Linked DNA regions of Homo sapiens. The protein of the gene in region 2 interacts with the protein of the main gene of each other region in a biochemical or structural test. Each region holds a gene or a part of one and is shown on either strand. Other genes may lie near its edges.

What was found.
Region 1: the proteins of CPSF1 (region 2) and TAF12 form a complex in vitro, tested with the Homo sapiens proteins (one study listed by BioGRID).

The regions. Positions count from the first base shown.
Region 1 is NC_000001.11:28,615,255-28,619,067, forward strand, and holds part of TAF12 (transcription initiation factor TFIID subunit 12), read right to left. Parts: intron 2,777-3,813; coding exon 2,699-2,776; intron 1-2,698. UniProt on the Homo sapiens protein: The TFIID basal transcription factor complex plays a major role in the initiation of RNA polymerase II (Pol II)-dependent transcription.
Region 2 is NC_000008.11:144,402,622-144,406,434, forward strand, and holds part of CPSF1 (cleavage and polyadenylation specificity factor subunit 1), read right to left. Parts: intron 3,213-3,813; exon of another isoform or gene 3,209-3,212; intron 2,675-3,208; exon of another isoform or gene 2,544-2,674; intron 370-2,543; exon of another isoform or gene 246-369; intron 1-245. UniProt on the Homo sapiens protein: Component of the cleavage and polyadenylation specificity factor (CPSF) complex that plays a key role in pre-mRNA 3'-end formation, recognizing the AAUAAA signal sequence and interacting with poly(A) polymerase and other factors to bring about cleavage and poly(A) addition.

The DNA.
Region 1 (3,813 bases), on a different chromosome or scaffold from region 2:
GGACCATTAACTCATTGTCATCTTTACTGTGGGAACCAAATGGACACCATCTTAGAGAAAGATTTCAGATTAAACAGCAGATCAACTCTAAAAATAACCTCCTGTCCCTCCCTAATCCCATTAAAATAAGTTAAAAAAATATTGCCAGGTGCAGTGGCTCATGCCTGTAATCCCAGCACTTTGGGAGGCCGAAGTGGGTGGATGACCTGAGGTCAGGAGTTCGAGACTAGCTTGACCAATATGGTGAAACCCCGTCTCTACTAAAATTACAAAAATTAGCCAGGTGTGGTGGCGTGTGCCTGTAGTCCCAGCTTCTCAGGAGGCTGATGCAGGAGAATCACTTGAACCCGGGAGGTGGAGGTTGCAGTGAGCCAAGATCATGCCGCTGCACTCCAGCCTGGTCAACAGAGCGAGACTCCGTCTCAAAAAAAAAAAAAAAAAAAAAAAAAAAAAAAAAAGAAGCTAAGGGATAAATCCTCAAGATAGGAGACTGGAATTTTCTCCGGAGATATTGAATGATTCCAGAGAAAAGACTTACAGATACTGACATTTAGGGAATCTTCCATTAGGAAGGTTGACTTGTGGACAAATTACTCTGAAGTAAAGTCTTGTGGTCTGCTAGAGTGAACCGAGACCAGCTCATAAAAGCCAACTGTGTACCTCTTTTCCCAAGTTTGTATTTAGTGATGTCATGTTGGTAGAAATAGTTACACCACAGAAATAATAAAGCACTGCAAATCGGGCATTTTTCTCCAAAGAGCTAGTTGTTAAACATTTACCCATATATTACTGGGCCAAATCCATCAATTATACTTCAAATCAGCTTTTCAGTGAGTGATTCTTTAAGAATGAATAGCCAGGGTCGGGCATAGTGGCTCAGACCTATAATCCCAGCACTGTGGGAGGCTGAGGTGGACAGATCACTTGAGGTCAGAAGTTTGAGACCAGCCTGGCCAACATGGTAAAACTTTGTTACTACTAAAAATACGAAATTAGTCAGGTATGGTGGTGTGCACCTGTAATCCCAGCTACTCGGGAGGCTGAGGTGGAAGAATCACTTGAACCTGGGAGATGGAGTTTGCAGTGAGCCGATATCGCACCACTGCACTCCAGCCTGGGCAGCTGAGCAAGATTCTGTCTCAAAAAAAAAAAAAAAAGAAAAGAAAAAGAAAAACAGTAAGGAAAGTTATATGGACCAGCAGGCGTGATAGCTCATGCCTGTAATCCCAGCACTTTGGGAGGCCGAGGTGGGTGAATCACCTGAGGTCAGGAGTCCGAGACCAGCCTGGCCAACATGGCAAAACCCCATCTCTACTAAAAAATACAAAAATTAGCCAGGTGTGGTGGCACATGCCTATAATCCCAGCTACTTGGGAGGCTGAGGCAGGAGAATCACTTGAACCCCCGGGATGCAGAGGTTGCGGTAAGCTGAGATCCTGCCACTATACTCCAGCCTGGGCAACAGAGCAAGACTGTCTCAAAAAAATAAATAAATAAATAAATAAAAGTTATATGGCACACATTGAGTAGTGTAAAAAATTCTCATCTACCATAATAGGGAATCAACAGAATCTTATAAAATTGGCCAGGCACGGTGACTCACACCTGTAATCCCAGAACTTTGGGAGGCCAAGGCAGGTGGATCACCTAAGGTCAGGAGTTTGAGACCAGCCTGACTGACATGGAGAAACCCCATCTCTACTAAAAATACAAAAATTAGCCAGGTGTGGTGGTGCATGCCTATAATCCCAGCTACTCAGGAGGCTGAGGCAGGAGAATCGCTTGAACCCAGGAGGCGGAGGTTGCGGTGAGCCAAGATCGCGCCATTGCACTCCAGCGTGGGCATCAACAGCGAAACTCCGTCTCAAAAAAAAAAGAATATTATAAAATTAATGGGTCAAAGAGTATCTTTTTAAGTATATTACTTAGAAATATAGAAGAATGTTACAGAAACAGCTAAAATTGTTGAAAGTGATTGCCTGTGAGCAACAGACTATGCCGTTTTTAACAGGCAAAAGTAGCAGCAGTTATTGGGTATAAAGCAAATTCAGATTTGTCTGTGCTCTTATTTTATTTATTTATTGCAGTGGTACAATCTTGGCTTACTGCAACCTCGGCCTTCTGGGTTTAAGAACACTTCAACCTCCCTAGTAGCTGGAACTACAGGTACACACCACCACGCTCAGCTAATTTTTTTTCTTTTTTTTTTTTTGAGATGGAGTCTTGCTCTGTCGCCTAGGCTGGAGTGCAGTGGCATGGTCTCGGCTCACTGCACTCCGCCTCCCAGGTTCACTTCATTCTCCTGCCTCAGCCTCCCGAGTAGCTGGGACTACAGGCGCCCGCCACCATGCCCGGCTAATTTTGTTTTTTGTATTTTTAGTAGAGACGGGGTTTCACTGTGTTAGCCAGGATGGTCTTGATCTCCTGACCTTGTGATCCGCCCACCTCGACCTCCCAAAGTGCTGGGATTACAGGAGTGAGCCACCACACCTGGCACTCAGCTAATTGTTTAATTTTTTGCAGAGACAAGGTCTCATTATATGGCCTAGGCTGGTCTTGAACCTCTGGGTTCCAGCAATCCTCCTGCTTTGGTCTCTCAAAAGGCATGAGCCACTGCATCTGGCCTGTTTGTGCTCTTAACCACTATGCTATACCGGTTCTCAGGGACCAGTTTCTGGGGTACCCAACCCCACCTTACCTCCTCCACATCTTCATCCAACTGCTCATTAGGATCCACTTCTCTTACTAAGTCCTGTAATTTCTTCTTGGTCAATACCTAAAGTTAATTGGAAGAAGACTTTTCAACCAGATATTAAGGAAATGAAACAAATCATTACCCTGTAATGAAGAAAGGCTGTCAAATTGTTGGTTTTAGTTTCCACTTTCCAATGAGTTCACAGTCTGGCCTACCTGACTATGCTGCTGTAAGACTACACTCTCAAGACAGAAGTAACTTAGGGAAAGGTGGAAAGAGCAGTTTGAAGACAGGCCAGCATCCAGCTGTCAGGCAGTATATTTCAGCCTCATGTCTTTTTCTCACTGTGTCTCTTCACATGTAGAAATTTGCAATTCTCTGACCACCACAAATTGTACCATGCCCCTTGCCTTTAGACAAGTTTGTTTTTTTGTTTTGTTTTGTTTTTGAGACAGGGTCTTGCTCTATTGCCCACTGGAGTGCAGTGGCATGATCATGGCTTACTGTAGCCTTGACTGCCAAGCTCTCCCACCTAAGCTTCCCAGCTAGCTGGGACCATAGGCACGTGCCATCATACCTGGCTAATTTTTTTTTTTTTTTTTTTTTTTGAGAGACAGGATCTCGCTATGTTGTGCAGCCTGCTCTTGAACTCCTGGCCTCAAGTGATTCTTCCACCTCAGCCTCCCAAAGTGCTGTACACACTCTTCCTCTCTTCTTCCTTCTTGCTTAGCTCATGGTGCCTCTTTCTGATGCTTTTCCTAGCCCATCCCAGTAAAGGTAACCACTTACTTCCTCCTTTGGCCTCTACTGTATCCTGTGTACCCTTTATCATTGTGCATATTTATATACTTCCCTGTTTCTGACTTAATAGGCTAAAAGCTCCCTGAGGGCAGCCTTCATAAAGGAAATGTCATGTTACATACGTATGCCATTAAAAAGTAATCAAAAGAAAGCCAGGCACAGTGATCTGTGCCTGTAGTCCCAGCTACTCAGCAGGCTGAGGCAGGAGGATCACTTGAGGCCAGGAGTTAGAGACTGCAGTGAGCTATGATTGTGCCACTACACTCCAGCCTGGGGAACACAGGAAGACCTCATGTCTTAAGAAACAAACAAAAAAA
Region 2 (3,813 bases):
TGCTATGGGGAGGGCATCTTGGAAGCTGGTTAAGAGATACAGAAGAAGCATCCACAAACCAATACCCATCTCACAGCGACAAGGGCAACTCCAGGGCTTCACCCGCAAATTCTACCAAAGGTTTCAGAAGTAATGACACACTTAAAAAAAAAACACACACCCACTCATGTGGGGCTGACGGCACCGCAGGTGGCTCAGGCCACCCCAACAGCCCACAGACAGGTGGGACAGGAAGTGACACCAACCTCCTCAAAACGCCTGCAGATGAGCCCAGTGACAAGCAGGGGTATTGTAACACAACTGGGTTGAGTTATTCCAGGAACGCAAAACTAGATTTCCGCAAGAACAGCCATCGCTAAACTTACCATGCTGTCAAAATTAAGGAGAAAAATCATGTCATTTTAGTGGATACAAAAAAAGCATCTGATAAAGGCATTCGTGATAAAAACTCCTAGTAAAGCAAAAATAGGAGGAAAATTTTTTTTTTTTTTTTGAGATGGAGTCTCACTTTGTTGCCCAGGCTGGAGTGCAATGGTGTGATTTTGGCTCACTGCAACCTCTGCCTTCCAGGTTCAAGCGATTCTCCTGTCTCAGCCTCCTCAGTAGCTGGGATTATAGGCGCCCACCACCACGTCCAGCTAATTTTTGTATTTTTAGTACAGACAGGGTTTTGCCATGGCCAGGCTGGTCTTCAACCCCTGACCTCAAGCGATACACTCACCTCGGCCTCTCAAAGCGCTGGGATTACAGGCATGAGCCACCACGCCAGGCCTTTGTTTTTTGACATAGGGCCTCACTGTCTCCCAGGTTGGAGTGCAGAGGAGCAATCATGTTTCACTGCAGCCTCGACCTCCTGGGCTTAGGTGATCCTCCCACCTCAGCCTCCTGAGTAGCTGGGACCACATGTGAGTCACCACACCTGACTAATTTATTTATTTTTTTAAATTTTGAGACAGAGTCTCACTCTGTCACCCAGGCTGGAGGGCAGTAGTGTGATCTCAGCTCCCTGCAACCTCTGCCTCCTGGGTTCAAGCAATTCTCCTGCCTCAGCCTCCCAAGTAGCTGGGATTACAGGCATGTGCTACCATGCCCGGCTATTTTTGTATTTTTAATAGATAGGGTTTTGCCATGTTGGCCAGGATGGTCTCGAACCCCTGACCTCAGGTGATCCACCCACCTTGGCCTCCCAAAGTGCAAGGATTATAGACATGAGCCACCGCGCCCAACTTCCTTAATCAAATAAAGGGTATCTACAAAAAGTCTACAGCAATGTGGTGCTGGGAGTGAAACATTACAAGTTTTCCCTTTTGAGGCCGGGCACAGTGGCTCACGCCTGTAATCCCAGCACTTTGGGAGGCCGAGGTGGGTGGATCACCTGAGGTAAGGAGTTCGAGACCAGTCTAGCCAACATGGTGACATAGTGAAATCCCGTCTCTACTAAAAATACAAAAATTAGCTGGGTGTGGTGGCAGGTGCCTGTAGTCCCAGCTACTCAGGAGGCTAAGGCAGGAGAATCGCTTGAATCCGGGAGGCGGAGGTTGCAGTGAGCCAAGATCATGCCATTGCACTCCAGCCTGGGGGACAAGAGAGAGACTTGGTCTCAAAAAAACAAACAAAAAAAGAAGTTTTCCCTCTTGGTCAGGACCAGCCAAGGACGCCTGATCCACTCTGCCAAGTATAAGGTCAATATACAGAGATCAACTGCACTTCTGTGTACATGCAAGAAACAGGGGTAACCACTCAGAAGAATTTTTTTTTTTTTTGAGACGGAGTCTTGCTCTGTCGCCAGGCTAGAGTGCAGTGGCACAATCTTGGCTTACTGCAAGCTCTGCCTCCCAGGTTCAAGCCATTCTCCTGCCTCAGCTTACCGAGTAGCTGGGACTACAAGCGCCCACCACCACGCCTAATTTTTTTTTTTTTTGTATTTTAGTAGACTCGGGGTTTCACCATCTTGGACAGGCTGGTCTTGAACTCCTGAGCTCAGGCAATCCACCCACCTCGGCCTGCCAAAGTGCTGGGATTACAGGCGTGAGCCACTGCGCCCGGCCACCACTCAGAAGGATTTTAAGAAAAATGTGTACATAGTCAAATGGTCTAACTGGCATGTTGGGGGAAAGGGGACAGAATCAATAGCTAAAGAAATAGCGACCAAAGGCTGGGCGTGGTGGCTCACGCCTGTAATCCCAGCACTTTGGGAGGCTGAGGCAAGCGGATCACGGGGTCAGGCGATCGAGACCATCCTGGCTAACACGGTGAAACCCCGTCTCTACTAAAAATACAAAAACATTAGTCGGGCGCCTGTAGTCCCAGCTACTCAGGAGGCTGAGGCAGGGGAATCGCTTGAACCCAGGAGGTGGAGCTTGCAGTGAGCCGAGATTGTGCCACTGCACTCCAGCCTGGGTGATAGAGCGAGACTCCGTCTAAAAAAAAAAAGAGAAAGAAAGAAAGAAAAAAAAACCTTGAAAATCTGAATAAGAGGACGTTTACAGGGTTTCAAAATAAGTCCCTACAAGATACTTTTAGTTACAAAAGGAAGAAATAACCTTACAGTGGGGGAATCCAGGCCAACACTACCCAACCAAGCATCAAAGCATCAGCATCCAGTCATGAGGCAAAGGCCTCCGCCGCCTCCTGAAAGCTGATGGGGCTGCTGTTTGCCTCTTCTGTGGTGTTCCTGTCAAAAATACAAATGTCTCATCTAAACACCTGGGAATGTCTTGGCCGGGCTCCGTGGCTCACACCTGTAATCCCAGCACTTTGGAAGGCCAAGGCGGGTGGATCACTTGAGGTCAGGAGTTCGAGACCAGCCTGGCCAACATGGTGAAACCCCATCTCTACCAAAAATACAAAAAATTAGCTGGGTGTGGTGGCAGGCGCCTGTAATCCCAGCTACTCGGGAGGTTGAGGCAGGAGAACTGCTTGAACCCGGGAGGCAGAGGTTGCAGTGAGCTGAGATCGCACTGTTGCACTCTATCCTGGGTGACAGAGGGAGACTCTCTCTCAAAAAAGAAAAAAAAAAGACAGCTGTATGAAAGGTGGCTGTCTCCCTCCCTCTCCAGGTGAATCTGGGCTGGAGGCTGCCTTTAGGGCAGACTGTGGTGGCAGGGACGGTGCCCTCCTGGTCTAGCCCTTAAAGTGACTGGCAGCTTCTGCCTTAGCCTCCTAGGGCTCTGAGTTCCTGCAAGAAGCTCAACTACACCAACACCACCATGCTGCCAGGAAAACCAAGCTAGCCATGCTGGGGACAGGGGAGAGTGGAGGGACGGTGTGGGGGTAGGGGAAGACACATCTAGCCTGTCCCCAGCTCTTCAAGTCATCCCTGTCAAGGCTTGCCCTGGTGGAGGAGAGCCAAGGGCTCCCCACACTCTGATGAATCCCTGAAAACCTGGCTTCCAGGTCTGCGATTATGATAAAAGACCTCGTTTGCATATTCCAGGGCAGTTAGTTACAGAGCCACGACTAGACTGACCCCAGGAGGATGGCTTGAGCACAGGAGTTCGAGGCCAGCCTGGACAACATAGCAAGACCCCGTTTCTTAAAAACAAAAAACAAAACAGAAGAAGAAAACCTCTTTTCCTGCTATTTATGGCTCCATTTCTTGCTTCAGTTTACGCACATCTCCTCCAGAGTTGTCTGTGTTCACTGTTACTGACTCTCCTCCCCTGCTGGGCTCTTACCCCTGCTCCATTCAGACCACAACCCCTCGTGCCCACCAGACTGCCCTGTCAGTCACCAGGCATCACCTGAGGCTCAACAGCGTGGGACCCAGTGTCGAGTCCCTCCCAGCTGCCTTCCCTGGGCCTCCAGGGCCCT